2 linked regions of the Homo sapiens genome follow. Each later gene encodes a partner of the first gene's protein in a complex. Each region holds a gene or a part of one and is shown on either strand. Other genes may lie near its edges.

Region 1 (7,838 bases):
CAGTAGAGCATCCAGTGGCTAAAAGTGGGCTCTCCCAAGCCAGATAGCATGAGTTCAAATTCCAGTACCCCCACTCACTGGCTCTGTGACCCTAGACAAGTTACCTAACCTTTTGGTGACTCAGTTTCCTCATCTATAAAATGGAAATAATCATAGTGCTATCATGAAATATAACTATATCAGATCACATAGAGTAATAAAACAGTATTTGGCACATAGTAAGCATTTAATAATTGCTAGCCATCTTTATGTTTACCAGTGTTGCTTTGACAGCTAGGCTGAGTAGCAGGTAGCATGCACCATCAAACCACATTTATGGTGGAAGCTTCTTTGATAGAACAATGAAAAACTTGATCTCATTCAATTCTCTCCCTGACAGGGAATGCCTGGGACCCTGAGTGGGCGTCAATAAACACTGACTGACTGATCGACACTGATTGACTGATTTAGGCTGTCAGTGAAAGTGGAAAGCCTGGATTACTCATCCAGATGTTAGGAACTATTTTTCCCAAAAGACAAATAGCACTTCCAGTCTTTAAAAGACTATCGCTGAGGCTTGTTAAAGTCTACCAACTACAAAATGATAATTCCATTTACTTTCTCTAATTAACTATAACAACGAAAAGAAGAAAACTCAGTAAGAAAGAATTCCTAGAGTGACACCTTCCTAGAAGAAGGTTTAACCCAAGGCAGTCTGCTGTACTAGAACTTTTTTTTTTTTTTGAGACTTTAGAGTCAACATTATAATTCATTTCAAGACATGTTGGAATGAGTTTTAGATTTTTTTCCCAAAACAATAATTAAACCAGCCAGGTCCATACTAAATCTCCGGTTTACTCCCAGGAAAACAAAACAATGACTTGGCAAAGCTGTGACCTAAACTTTGCTCCAGCTCTGCACTTACAAAAGTCCATTCATCCCCGCCTTAGGCACCCATCTGCAAAGTGGAGATGATGATGCCTAACACTAACTCGATACAGATGTAAATGAGAATGTGCTCAGAATTTTGAGCAACTTGGAAAAAATAAGCGATGTATTAATTGAAGATGATTTGGAATGCTCAGACATCAACTTTTAGGGACAAATAAACAATCTCCACCCTCCAAATGCTAGGCTCTGTGAGCCCACTCCACCTAGATGAGCCTTCTCTGGGCCATTCAGCCCCCTGGAATCCCAGAGACAGAAGAGGAGTGAGGTACACAAACTGTGGCAAGAAGGGCAAACAGGTTTCACCCACATCACTAGTGCGATCTGCATATGTGACTCCAAGCAGGCCTTCAGGGTAGAGTCAGAGGTTAAGGAAAGAAAAATAGGTTAGAAAATAAATGAGGCCTGTTTATTTCTCCTGCTTTTTTAAAAAGAAAAACATGGCATTCTAGCAGAAATCCTACTTGATCTAAAGTGAGCTTCACATTTCTTTCTACTCTTTTTTTTTTTTTTTTTTTTTTGAGACCGAGTCTTGCTGTGTCGCCCAGGCTGGAGTGCAGTGGCGCGATCTTGGCTCACTGCAACCTCCCCCTGCCGGGTTCAAGCAATTCTCCTGCCTCAGCCTCCCGAGTAGCTGGGATTACAGGCGTGTACCACCACGCCCGGCTAATTTTTTGTATTTTTAGTAGAAATAGGGTTTCACCATGTTGGCCAGGCTGGTCTCGAAATCCTGACCTCAAATAATCCACCCGTCTCGGCCTCCCAAAGTGTTGGGATTACAGGCTTGAGCCACCGCGCCCGGCCACATTTTTACTCTTATATTCTTAGTTGAAAACAACAGAGAAGTCCAAGTGCCACTCCATCTCTGAAGCACAGATAGCCTTTCTGCTGAAGGCAATGGTCTGGGAGCACCAGTCTCAAATCAGATCAATTTCATACCCACCTAGAAGCTACGAAAGTGAAGACCCATAACCCTTAATTTACTTTTTTTCCATTTATAAAACTAAAGACTACAACAGGAAAGAAAAATAAAATAAAACAGATGTAATTAGAGAAGGAGAGTAGGTAGAAAGAACGCAAAAGTGAAGCCCTCCTGGCCCTGAGCTTCACTTAAGGAAACGAACATGACACCCCAGTACTCTGGGGGACTCCTTGGAAACGCCTTCTTAAATGGGCTCCCCTCCCCTGAAAAGAGAGCGAATTCCTAAGACCTCTTCGTGGTCTGTAGATAAGATGGGGGTGGGGGAGATGGAAAGATCACTTGAAATTCTGTATCCATAAATGGTAGAGTGGTGCTCCTTGTGTACATGATGCTTAATGGAAATCGCATGTTTTCACAAACACGGGTCGATCTTTTTAACACACAGTCCCAATTAACGGTGGAAATTCCACAACGTGGGATCCCAGGGATGTTAAGGCCTGGCGAGTTGGCTTTCTCAAACTTTTTCGGGGGAGCCCGCACTGTGGGGCCCCGGACGCCGCCGTCACCATCCGGCGTGGCTCTACCGGGGCTGGTGCCGGGGCTGGGGGCCACGCTCCGCCGGCGGCGCCTAGGGGCCATCGCGAGAAAGAGAAAGAGACAGAGAGAGAGAAAAAGAGAGAGACAAGAGAAGAGAAAAGAGACAGACACAGAGAGAAAGAAAGAGAGACAGAATATAAGAGAACTGAAGAGAAGAGAAGAGAAGAGGGAAGAAAGAAAAAAAAGACAAGACCCGGGGAGGGCGCAGGCGGGAGCGCGCGGGCGGCGAGGCCTAGGAAGGGCCCAGCAGCAGCGGGAGGGCGCGCGGCTACTCAGCCCAACCCGTGCGGCCCGGGCTTACCTTCCAGATAACAGCTGGAGGACGAGGACAGCCCCTTCTTGGATTTGCAGCCCACCAGCTTCAGGCAGATCTCCAACATTTTCCCGCGCCAGCACGTCGGGGGCCGGAACCCCTCTCCCAGCTCGGTCCGCGGGCCCGGCTCAGGCCCGGCTCGGCCCGCGCGCCCCCCCGGCGCCCCCGGCCCCGCCAGCCGCCCTCACCGCCGCCCCGCGCGCCCGCGCCCGCCCATGGCCGCGGCCGCGTCTCCGCCTGGCCGGGACGCGCCTGTTAACAAAGGGCCCGGAGAGGGCGCCCGCCAGGCCCGCCCCCGCCCCGCCGCCGCCTGCGCCTTAACCCCCTCCTGGCCGCGCCCGTCCGCACCCAGGGGCCCCTGGCGTTCCCGAGGCCGAGCCCGGCCCAAAGCCACCGCCGCTTTCCAAAGCCAACCCGGGCCAATGGCGATCCTCGCAGGGGGAAGGCCGCGCGCGGCCCGCGGAGGTCTTTCTCCGCCTGGAAGCGCCGTCCCAGCCCCGGCGGGGAGGGTGCAGGCCTGCTCCACTCCACTTTAGAAGCCGCGCGCAACTCCACCGCGGCCTGGGGCGTCTCCAACCTGCACCGCTTTTGGCGAGTTTCCCAGTACGCGGTGCCAGGCAAACCCTCTGACCCGAGAACGCTGGTGAAAATGCATATTCCTCTGCAGTTACCAATACTAACTGGTCTCATTTCTACTCAACGCGCGTCCTGTGATTAAGGCTGAGGCAGTGGGTGTCTGGGGAGGAAGTCAGAGCTGGCACCCACAGGACAACCACACGTGCGCACGACACCCCGGTGAGGCCGCACATCCAGACCAGGATATGAGGTCAGGCTGCGAACAGACGGGTGTGAGTTCAGAGTGAGAGGACTTAGTCCCTACAATGAGAATTTTCGGAGGCACGGTCTGGGCCTCTTCTCTGATTCATTTTCTTTAACAGAGAACTTTTCCTCTTCCTTTGGCCGAGTGCCACGGGGTGAGGGTGGGGGGACCATTGTTTAAAATCCATTTCATTCAATTATTTTAAACTCTTGTTTGGACTGACCACAGACAATGTTATAAAGCAGCAACAATCACAGTCGTGTTACTGGCGCACACCCAGAAATCTAGGTCAGAGGGAAACAATAAGGAACTCAATGGCACCAAATAATTCAATAAAATCAGGTAAGTTCCCCTCATGACAGGAAAAGGAATTTATTTCATTTATTTCTTTCATAAATGGTGTTAATCACAAAACTGTAAAGGGGGAAGTTTAGTCCACATCTTCTAGCCATGAAGAGTAAGAGCTGACGTGTATTGTGCTCTTCCTATGTGCCATGTTACCTTCATTAACTGTATTGCATCTGCGTAATGATTCTGTGAGGAAACAGATTATCCCAATTCTTCAGGTTTAAAAACAAACAAACCCCACAGATGCTCAGAGAAGTCAGACACCTTGCCCACAGCTGGAAACAGGCGGAGATGGACTCAACCCAGGTCTGCCTGGCTCCAAGGATCAGGCTCCCGACCAGTGGATGATGCTGACCCTTCACATCAAGAATAAATTCCAAGTGGATTAAAGCATTGGATATCTTTGGTCAAATAACTAGCATTGTCATTATATGTTTCAGAGAAAGCCTTGGTTATGAGACCCTGGCTACTTTCTAGCCTATCCTGTAATGACAAAAACCCGGGTATCTTCAGTACCTCAGGAATGGCTAAGTAACAAGATCTTCACTTGGCTCTGCCAAAAACAGCACATAAAAACTCCAGTTGGACAGGATGTAACCAGTGTATATCACAGGGGTTCTCGGCCAGGATGTCATTAACTTTCCACATGTGTCCTGCCAAATTCTGATCAACATACAACATGTATTTTTACTGCCATTGAATGGACCTACTGCTAGAGTCGTGGTACCAGATCAGGCCTCATGAGCATCCAAGAGGGCACCATCAGGGAAGTTTGCAGCTCCCATCATCTGGAGATGCAGGACTACAGGGCCCCCAGGGGATGGGTGCAGTGACTCTGGATGCTTTCTAGGATCTGGGAAGCGCTGTCATTCTGCTGGACAGCCTGCGTGTGGTGACTGCTAACATGTTTAGTGTTGTCTTGAATCTGTCAACCTCTACACGTAATGCCAAAAATAACACTCAAAAGGGTGCCACCAGTACCAACTAGTGAAAAAATACAGTATCTGTCTGTTTTGTTGCCCTTTTGGAAAGTTCAGGGGCCTTGGATCAGACTATAATAAAGTCTGTCATTATATAGCATTTCATATTAAAGGGCCATATTCAAATTGGCGGCTTAATGCCAAGAATTACACATTATTAGGCATTTTGGAAATTCTAGCCATATCCTTGAATACCGTCTGTTAATATAGGCCCAGATATTTGCTTGCCTTGTGCTGTTCTTTATATTGGTATATGTTTATTTTTTTAAGCTAATTATTATTACTAATATTCTGCTCTTGAGTCTAAAATGATCTTATCCTCTTAAATCCTCTTAAAATGAATAATGCTTATAAACTGTACCCAAATCTTTTTAATTTTAGTTATAAAACCATACATCAACAGATCTAACAAAATACTGAATTAGTGGCAATGGATACTGAAAAAACTGCCAAACTACACTTCTGTATCAAACCTGGCCTATACTTTCCATATCCAGCTTTTGACGCTTTTGAAAGATACGAAGAGCATTCTGTTACAAGCAAATAAAGGAGAGCTTCAATCTTCTTACCAGAAGAACACCCCAAGAAGGATTCCTTCTAATCAGCCTAAGACCCAAAAGCTATTAGCTAAAAAGAAAGGGAAAAGGAAAGAAATTAAAGACTGTGAACTAACTTGTTTGCTATGTTGCATTAGTTTGGGAAGAAATACATTTTTAATGTGCATGTAATATGTGCCAGGCACTCTTAAGCCTCACAGTAACCTAATGATTTTGTATAGTTTAATTCCATTTCACAAGTAAGAAAACTGACTGGAGGGAGAGGGGGAAGTATTCTGTCCAAGTTCACACAGCCAGGAGGTAGGAAGGTAGGAAAGTCTTGAACTTTGTAAAATGGCAGAAAATTTCCAATTTAAGTGAAAGGTGGATAATATGAGTAAGATCAGAAGATGAAATAAGTAACATTAACTGTTGGGAAAACATGTCTTAGGAGAAAATAATTCAGGGAACTAGAGCTATTTAAGATTTTTTTTTTTTTTGAGATGGTGAAACCCCATCTCTACTAAAAGTACAAAAAAATTAGCTGGGCGTGGTAGCGGGCATCTGTAATCCCAGCTACTCGGGAGGCTGAGGCAGAGAATTGCTTGAACCTGGGAGGTGGAGGATGCAGTGAGCAGTGATCGCACCACCACACTCCAGCCTGGGCAACAGAGCGAGACTCCATCTCAAAAAAAAAAAAAATATTTAGAAGGAAAGGATAAACTCCCCAACATTAAAGCATGGGATCTGAACAATGTTTCTAAAAGCATAATCCATGGACAATCTATTTTGAATAATGTGGGGCTTGCTTAAAATGCGGAGTCTTGGTTTCTAGTCTAGAATCAGAATATGTGTAATGGGCTGGATCTGAAGCTCCCAGATGATCTGTATGCATATGTAAGATGGAAATCCACTGTTTGGGGGCCAGACACAGTAGCTCACGCCTGTAATCCCAGCACTTTGGGAGGCTAAGGTGGGCGATCACCTGAGGTCAGGAGTTAAAGACCAGCCTGGCCAACATGGGGAAATCCTGTCTCTACTAAAAATACAAAAATTAGCCAGGCATGGTGGTACACACCTGTAATCCCAGCTACTCGAGAGGCTGAGGCAGGAGAATCGCTTGAACCTGGGAGGTGGAGGTTGCAGTGTGCCAAGATTGCACCACTGCACTCCAGCCTGGGCAGCAGAGCAAGACTACATTTCAAAAAAAGAAAAAAAGAAAAGAAATCCACTGTTTTGGAAGAGGGAAGAGTTGCTTATTTTCACTGGGAATAGGACGAACAGGAATGGATATTTCTAAAATTTAATTCATTTGAAAGCAATTTCTGAATTTAAGATAGGCATAGTTCTAGAACAAGTTACCAAAAGAGGACTCTTCTTGGATGATTAGAGGAGAGAGACTGAATTTTTTTTTTAATTTGGAATTTAGTCCTATTAAGAAAAAGTTGGGCAGGCACCCACCATAGAAGTGTGTCAAGGGAAGGAGGCAGGATTCAGGATGTGGATGCTCCATCTCTCAGCAGCAAGACTGGGTGTGAGTGCAGGTGGAACAGAGACAGATGAACCTGACAGGAGGCCTGGCTTGGGACCCCAGGACAAGGTGACCCCAGGTCTGGCTGACCCCTTCACTGTTTCCAGCATAGCTAGTAGCTTTAGGGGGGGAACAGCAAAGATCTTGAGGTATGTGCACAGTATTTCACATGCAAATGCCAACAAAGCCCACTTTCTCTGATTCAGCAAACATTGTCCAGCAAGAGCCTGCCAGGTACTCTAGCTCTGTGGGTCCAGTGTATGTCCAACTAAAGGATAACATAGCTTAAAACATCACTTCTGTCATACCAGTTTTTGCCACTGTATAGGGACACATGCATCCCTTTAAGTCTCACATTTTTTCAATCGGGTAGCACTACCTGCTGGTCACGAGTTATGTGTCACAAAGGCTAGCGCTGAGTCTCAGATCTGCCACTCACTGTGGGGCCATGGGCAACGACTTCACCTCTCAGAGCCTCAATTTTCTCATCTGAAAAATGGGAGGTAGTCATAAGAGTAGTTATCTCACAGGGTTATTATGAAGATTAGGAATCATGTAGGGAGAGTGCCCAAAGCACAGAAGGTGCTCGATAAACAGTAGCTATTGTTATTTCCAAAAGAGGACTATTTCTGTATCAGGTCTGTGTTCCTGCCTACATCTCACTGGGACTCAGTCAAGAGCTCAAATTAACAAACATGCTATATGAAAATGATTCCAGAAAGCAGTCTGGAGGTTTTCCAAGGGACCAGGAAATCAATTTATTTTATGAAGAGAAAGAAACACTAGCTGTGAGGTAGGAGTAGCAACTAAGGTTCAAATGTAACAGAGAGCCCCACCTTTCATCCTAAAGCAAAGATTTGCAAC
Region 2 (5,040 bases), on another chromosome or scaffold:
CTGCCTCCCAAGGTGCTGGGATTACAGGCATGAGCCACCACACCCGGCCTAATCCCATCTTTAATAAGCACCCACTGAGCTTGTATAATTGTTTATCTAATTATATGACTGCAGGCTGCTGAAGGCACATACCTCCTATCCCCTAAGCATAAAGATTTACCTCTCGCTGGGTGCGGTGGTGGCTGAAGCCTGTAATCCCAGCACTTTAGGAGGCGGAGGCAGGCGGATCACCCGAGGTCAGGAATTTGAGACCAGCCTGGCTAACATGGTGAAACCCCATTTCTACTAAAAATACAGTAAATTAGCTGGGCGTGGTGGTGCATGCCTGTAACCCCAGCTACTCGGGAGGCAGAGGTAGGAGAATTGCTTGAACGTGGGAGGCGGAAGTTGCAGTGAGCCGAGATCGCATCACTGCACCCCAGCTTAGGTCACAAGAGCGAAACTCTGTCTCAAAAAAAAAAAAAGATTTAGTTCTTTTGTGAAAAATATTCAAAGATTACTTTTTTGCAAAAGATCACCAAGCCAAACATTTGGCCATATTTTTATTTACTACATATACTATAAACATATACAATACATGCTACCAAAAAAAATTTTTTTTTAAATTTAACTGTCAAGAAAGTGTATAGTGTTATAATACAATGGCACATGTTTATATTTTATTTCAAATTGGTTTGCTTATCACCTATTTCAAACCATTAACAGTGAAATGTTACTTGTGGATAATTAAAAATTATCTATTTGCATTATTAACAATAAACAATTCCAACAAATTAATAAGAATTAACCATGTCAAATATTAGTATTCAAAAAATGGGATTTGCAGAAATGATTATATAAAATATAGCAGCCAATTTCAGTTTACTTTGCCAATAGGATTTCAGCATTTGCTTTTTTTTGGAAGACACTTATAAGACATCCTTTGATTTCTTGAGGGGCATTAACTGCCACACTCAACAGTCAAATCCAGCCCAGTGGTTCATGAACGGCCCTGGATCACTGATCACTGAGGAATCCTTAGGACTTGAGTAGCGCTGCCTGTTCCACTGATATTACATATGATGAAAAGAGACATTACAAGCCAATATCAAAGTCAAAGGAAAAGAAAATAGGAACATTCAAATCAGTTGTGACAAGGTTTTTCTACAAGTATTTTTGATGCCATACTTTCAGGAAAACAAGATTTAATGTGTGTGTGGACTTTACAGTATCTACGTTCTAACTGAAAATTTAACAAAGCAGTCAGATGGAATTACATGTAGTATTACAAATGTGTTCATTCAACACTAATGAGCACCCACTCTGTGCATAGCACTGGGCTACCATTTTACAAGTTGAGTTTAACGTCTTTATCAAGCATGACCTTAGTGTGAGGTAAAATACATTAAATTAGCGTCAACGCGTTAGTCTGCTTGCGGCCATGTACGGAATCCTGGGCCAGCTGGCTTCCCTGTGCCACGTCACCGGTTTCTCAGGTCTCCTCATTCACTCAGACAAATACGTGCACACTGACTGTGTGTCAGACAGTGTGCCGGTCACTCGGACACCACAATCTGGTATAGGTTCAAAGAATGTAAATTTATCATTTTAACCTATGCAGAACAATTAGAAAGGCAGATTATTTTTCCAAAATGAGGTCCAAAGCAAACTATAAGGTGTTTCTATTGGTCATACCACACCAGAGACCGGTAAGTGCCTTTATAGACTGAGAACTAACGTGGAAGTTTCATGCTGTCGTCTAAATAGCCTAGGTCATTTTTGGTCTCATAGGTCTATTTTGTGGAGCACCTGACCCCATATAAATCATTCCATACTTAAATGGGTTTGTAAACTAAACCTGAACATAAACAAAGAGCCAAAAATGAAGGCAGTTTACAATGTAATGTTCTTCAACAGCATTACTCTCCCCATGAGAAATGAATAATACATAAGTAATTCACAATTGGTTCAACATTTTTTTTTCTTTTTTTTTTCCTTTTTTTTTTTTTTGAGACTGAGTCTTGCCCTGTCGCTCAGGCTGGAACGCAGTGGTGCGATCTCGGCTCACTGCAGCCTCCACCTCCCAGGTTGAAGCAATTCTCCTGCCTCAGCCTCCCGAGTAGCTGGGATTACAGGCGTGCACCACCACGCCGGGCTAATTTTTTATATCTTTAGCAGAGATGGGGTTTCACTATGTTGGCCAGGCTGGTCTCGAACTCCTGACCTCATGATCCACCCGCCTCGGCCTCCCAAAGTGCTGGGATTACAGACGTGAGCCACCGCGCCCAGCCGGTTCAACATTTTTTCAAAGCACTAACCCTACCCCAAATTCATGTAATACTAACTTGACTTTTATACAAGTTGCACAGAATGCAGAGGGCAGAATTTGACCCCAAAACCTTCCACAGAATATCAGAGGTGATTGGTCCTTCCACTCTTGAGTAGAACCTAAGAATTCCAAGAGTCTCCTAATAGGATACTGGCCCTCTGGAGAAATGGCCCTGCTGGATCCCATTAGTTAGGACTCTAGTTAGCTGCTGTAGAAGGGTGACCTACTACGACCCTTTTGGGGAAGGCAGAGAGCTGGGAGACTGGCTGTCCACTTAGTGAATCCAACACTGGCTTAAAGCTATGCACTGAATAAAGTGCTCGGTACATCCTGCTTTTCACCTGGAATGAAAATACACACTTATCTTAGGAATTCACCTACTTACAGGTTTGGGGGACAAGAATGTCAAGGGCTAAAAGAATCCCAAGAAAAAGTATGAAGCATTGACTAGGAGGGAACAAATGCTTCTAGTAGTGTTCTTAGAATTCTTAGGATCTGAAATGTCAGAATGAGTCACACGCTGGTCATGCTCCATACAATGAAAGCAATCCTGCTTGATACTATTCACACGGTGCATGATTACTTCACGGGGGTGGAACGGAACAGTCTGTCGCCATTTGATAGTATGGTTCCAGAATGAAAACAAAACCACTGAATAAATCAGGGTAAGCAGTGTGTAACACTCCTTCCTGTCCATCGGTTTTCCACAGGGTGATTTGCACTGCCTGAGAGAAAGGAGGCAAGATACCTATCCCTTCTGATACACACAGGCACGACCACTACCGCCTCCAATTGCCAATTCAGAAGCTAACACACAAGCCCTCCAGTTCGTACCCTGAATATGGTAATTAAGACTAGGAATGGAGCAGTTCAGTCTAAAAAATATCACAGGTAACAGAATGCTTATATAAACTAGACTGCTTTTGACATCTGTAAGAAAATTGTATAGATGGCAGTTGGAAAAAAAAAAAAAAGATTGTTCCCATCTGTCAGCAAAACTGTTGAACTATACTCAGCTGAAGTCCTCATCGGGATTCTGTTGATCCAGCAGACGGACATGTGTGAATGGGAAGTGACCTCGTTTGCCATTACACTCCCCTTCCCACTGACCACTCACATTAATCTTCGTAACCTTTACCAGCTCACCGACCTGCAGGAGGAGAATAAGGAGAGCACTTTATTTCCAGGTAGGAATGCAAGCTGAACAACTCCATTCTCTGGTTAGGCACACCCTGCCCATGTGACTGCTCTAGGGATATTACAGAAATGGCCATTTGCTGCCTCCCCAGCCCCAGCCACCAGACTGATTACTTGTGGTTAATGCAGGCAGAAGGAAAAGTGTTTTTAGCAGTGTGGAAAAACAGAGAATACAGAAAGTAAAAGGGATTCCAGATAATGATACTTTTTGATTAAAAAAGGAAAGTGATAATTATTGGAAATCTCAGCTGTCTCTGCATGAGCAATCCCAACTTCAGTGAGTTAGCTACTATTCCCTTTCTTTGTACTCACTACCCTCAGCTTTCTGCCTGCTCCGCAGGCCCTGTCCGAGGAGAAGCAGCTTTCTCCGTTTTTTTTTTTTTTTTTTTTTGAGACGGAGTCTCTGTCACCCAGGCTGGATGACAGTGGCGTGATCTCAGCTCACTGCAAGCTCTGCCTCCCAGGTTCGAGCAATTTTCCTGCCACAGCCTCCCGAGTAGCTGGGACTACAGGCGCCTGCCACCGTGCCCAGCTAATTTTTGTATTTTTAGTAGAGATGGAGTTTCACCATCTTGGCCAGGCTGGTCTCGAACTCCTGACCTTGTGATCCACCTGCCTTGGCCTCCCAAAGTGCTTGGATTACAGGCGTGAGCCACTGTGCCTGGCCGCCTTCTCCCCGCTTTAGCATATGGCAGCAGCACAATCCCCCAGCCCACTCGCACAAGACCTGGCCTGTTACTGCTTGCACAGCAGAAAGCGATCATGGCAAGCATAGGTCACTTGGTCCTAGAGAATCAAGTGTTCCTATCACCTCCTGACCCAGGCAAGCCTTTTCCCATATGGGCAGGTAGAGGCCAAAACTCCAGGTCCAATTAGCTCCCAGAAAACCCCCACCTCATTCAGTAAGCTCTACTTCACAAGCCACTGCCTGCCCAGCCCCCAAATCCCACCATCGGACAGACCTTGCTGCTCCCTCAAAGCCGCTTGTTACCTGATCATTACCCAATGAGGGGTCAAAAAAACCAACCATGGCCGGGCGCAGTGGCTGACGCCTGCAATCCCAGCACTTGGTGAGCCTGACACAGGTGGATGGATTGCTTCAGCTCAGGAGTTTTTGAGACCAGCCTGAGCAACATGGTGAAACCGTCTCTACAAAAAATACAAAAATTAGCTGGGTGTGGTGGTGGCTGCTCATAGAACCAGCTACTCGGGAGGCTGAGGTGGGTGGACTGCTTGAGCCCAGGAGGCAGAGGTTGCAGTGAGCCGAGATCACATCACTGCACTCCAGCCTGGGCAACAGAGCCAGATCCTGCCTCTAAAAACAAAAAAAAACCTTATGTTTTGGCATTTATTTATAAAATGTCTCTTGTTGCAAAATGAAATATAAAGGTTTTTTTTGTTTGTTTTTTTAAGACAGAGTCTCGATCTGTTGCCCAGGCTGGAGTGCAGTGGCGCTATCTCAGCTCACTGCAAGCTCTGCCTCCCGGGTTCACGCCATTCTCCTGCCTCAGCCTCCCTAGTAGCTGGGACTACAG

Evidence for each region. The genes of interacting proteins can lie anywhere in the genome.
Region 2: the proteins of ABL1 (region 1) and CRK are in contact, whole or in part, in an NMR structure (PDB 1JU5), measured with the Homo sapiens proteins. Residues at the interface, in NP_005148.2 of Homo sapiens: Tyr70, Phe72, Asp77, Asn78, Thr79, Asn94, His95, Asn96, Gly97, Glu98, Trp99, Trp110, Pro112, Ser113, Asn114, Tyr115; in NP_058431.2 of Homo sapiens: Pro44, Asp46, Asn63, Gly66, Pro67, Arg68, Pro69, Pro70, Val71, Pro72, Pro73, Ser74, Pro75, Pro80, Gly81, Ser83, Pro84, Ser85.

The regions. Positions count from the first base shown.
Region 1 is NC_000009.12:130,830,435-130,838,272, reverse strand, and holds the start of ABL1 (tyrosine-protein kinase ABL1), read right to left. Parts: upstream 3,020-7,838; 5' UTR 2,827-3,019; coding exon 2,748-2,826; intron 1-2,747. UniProt on the Homo sapiens protein: Non-receptor tyrosine-protein kinase that plays a role in many key processes linked to cell growth and survival such as cytoskeleton remodeling in response to extracellular stimuli, cell motility and adhesion, receptor endocytosis, autophagy, DNA damage response and apoptosis.
Region 2 is NC_000017.11:1,420,193-1,425,232, forward strand, and holds the end of CRK (adapter molecule crk), read right to left. Parts: intron 4,474-5,040; exon of another isoform or gene 4,394-4,473; intron 3,459-4,393; coding exon 3,321-3,458; 3' UTR 501-3,320; downstream 1-500. UniProt on the Homo sapiens protein: Involved in cell branching and adhesion mediated by BCAR1-CRK-RAPGEF1 signaling and activation of RAP1.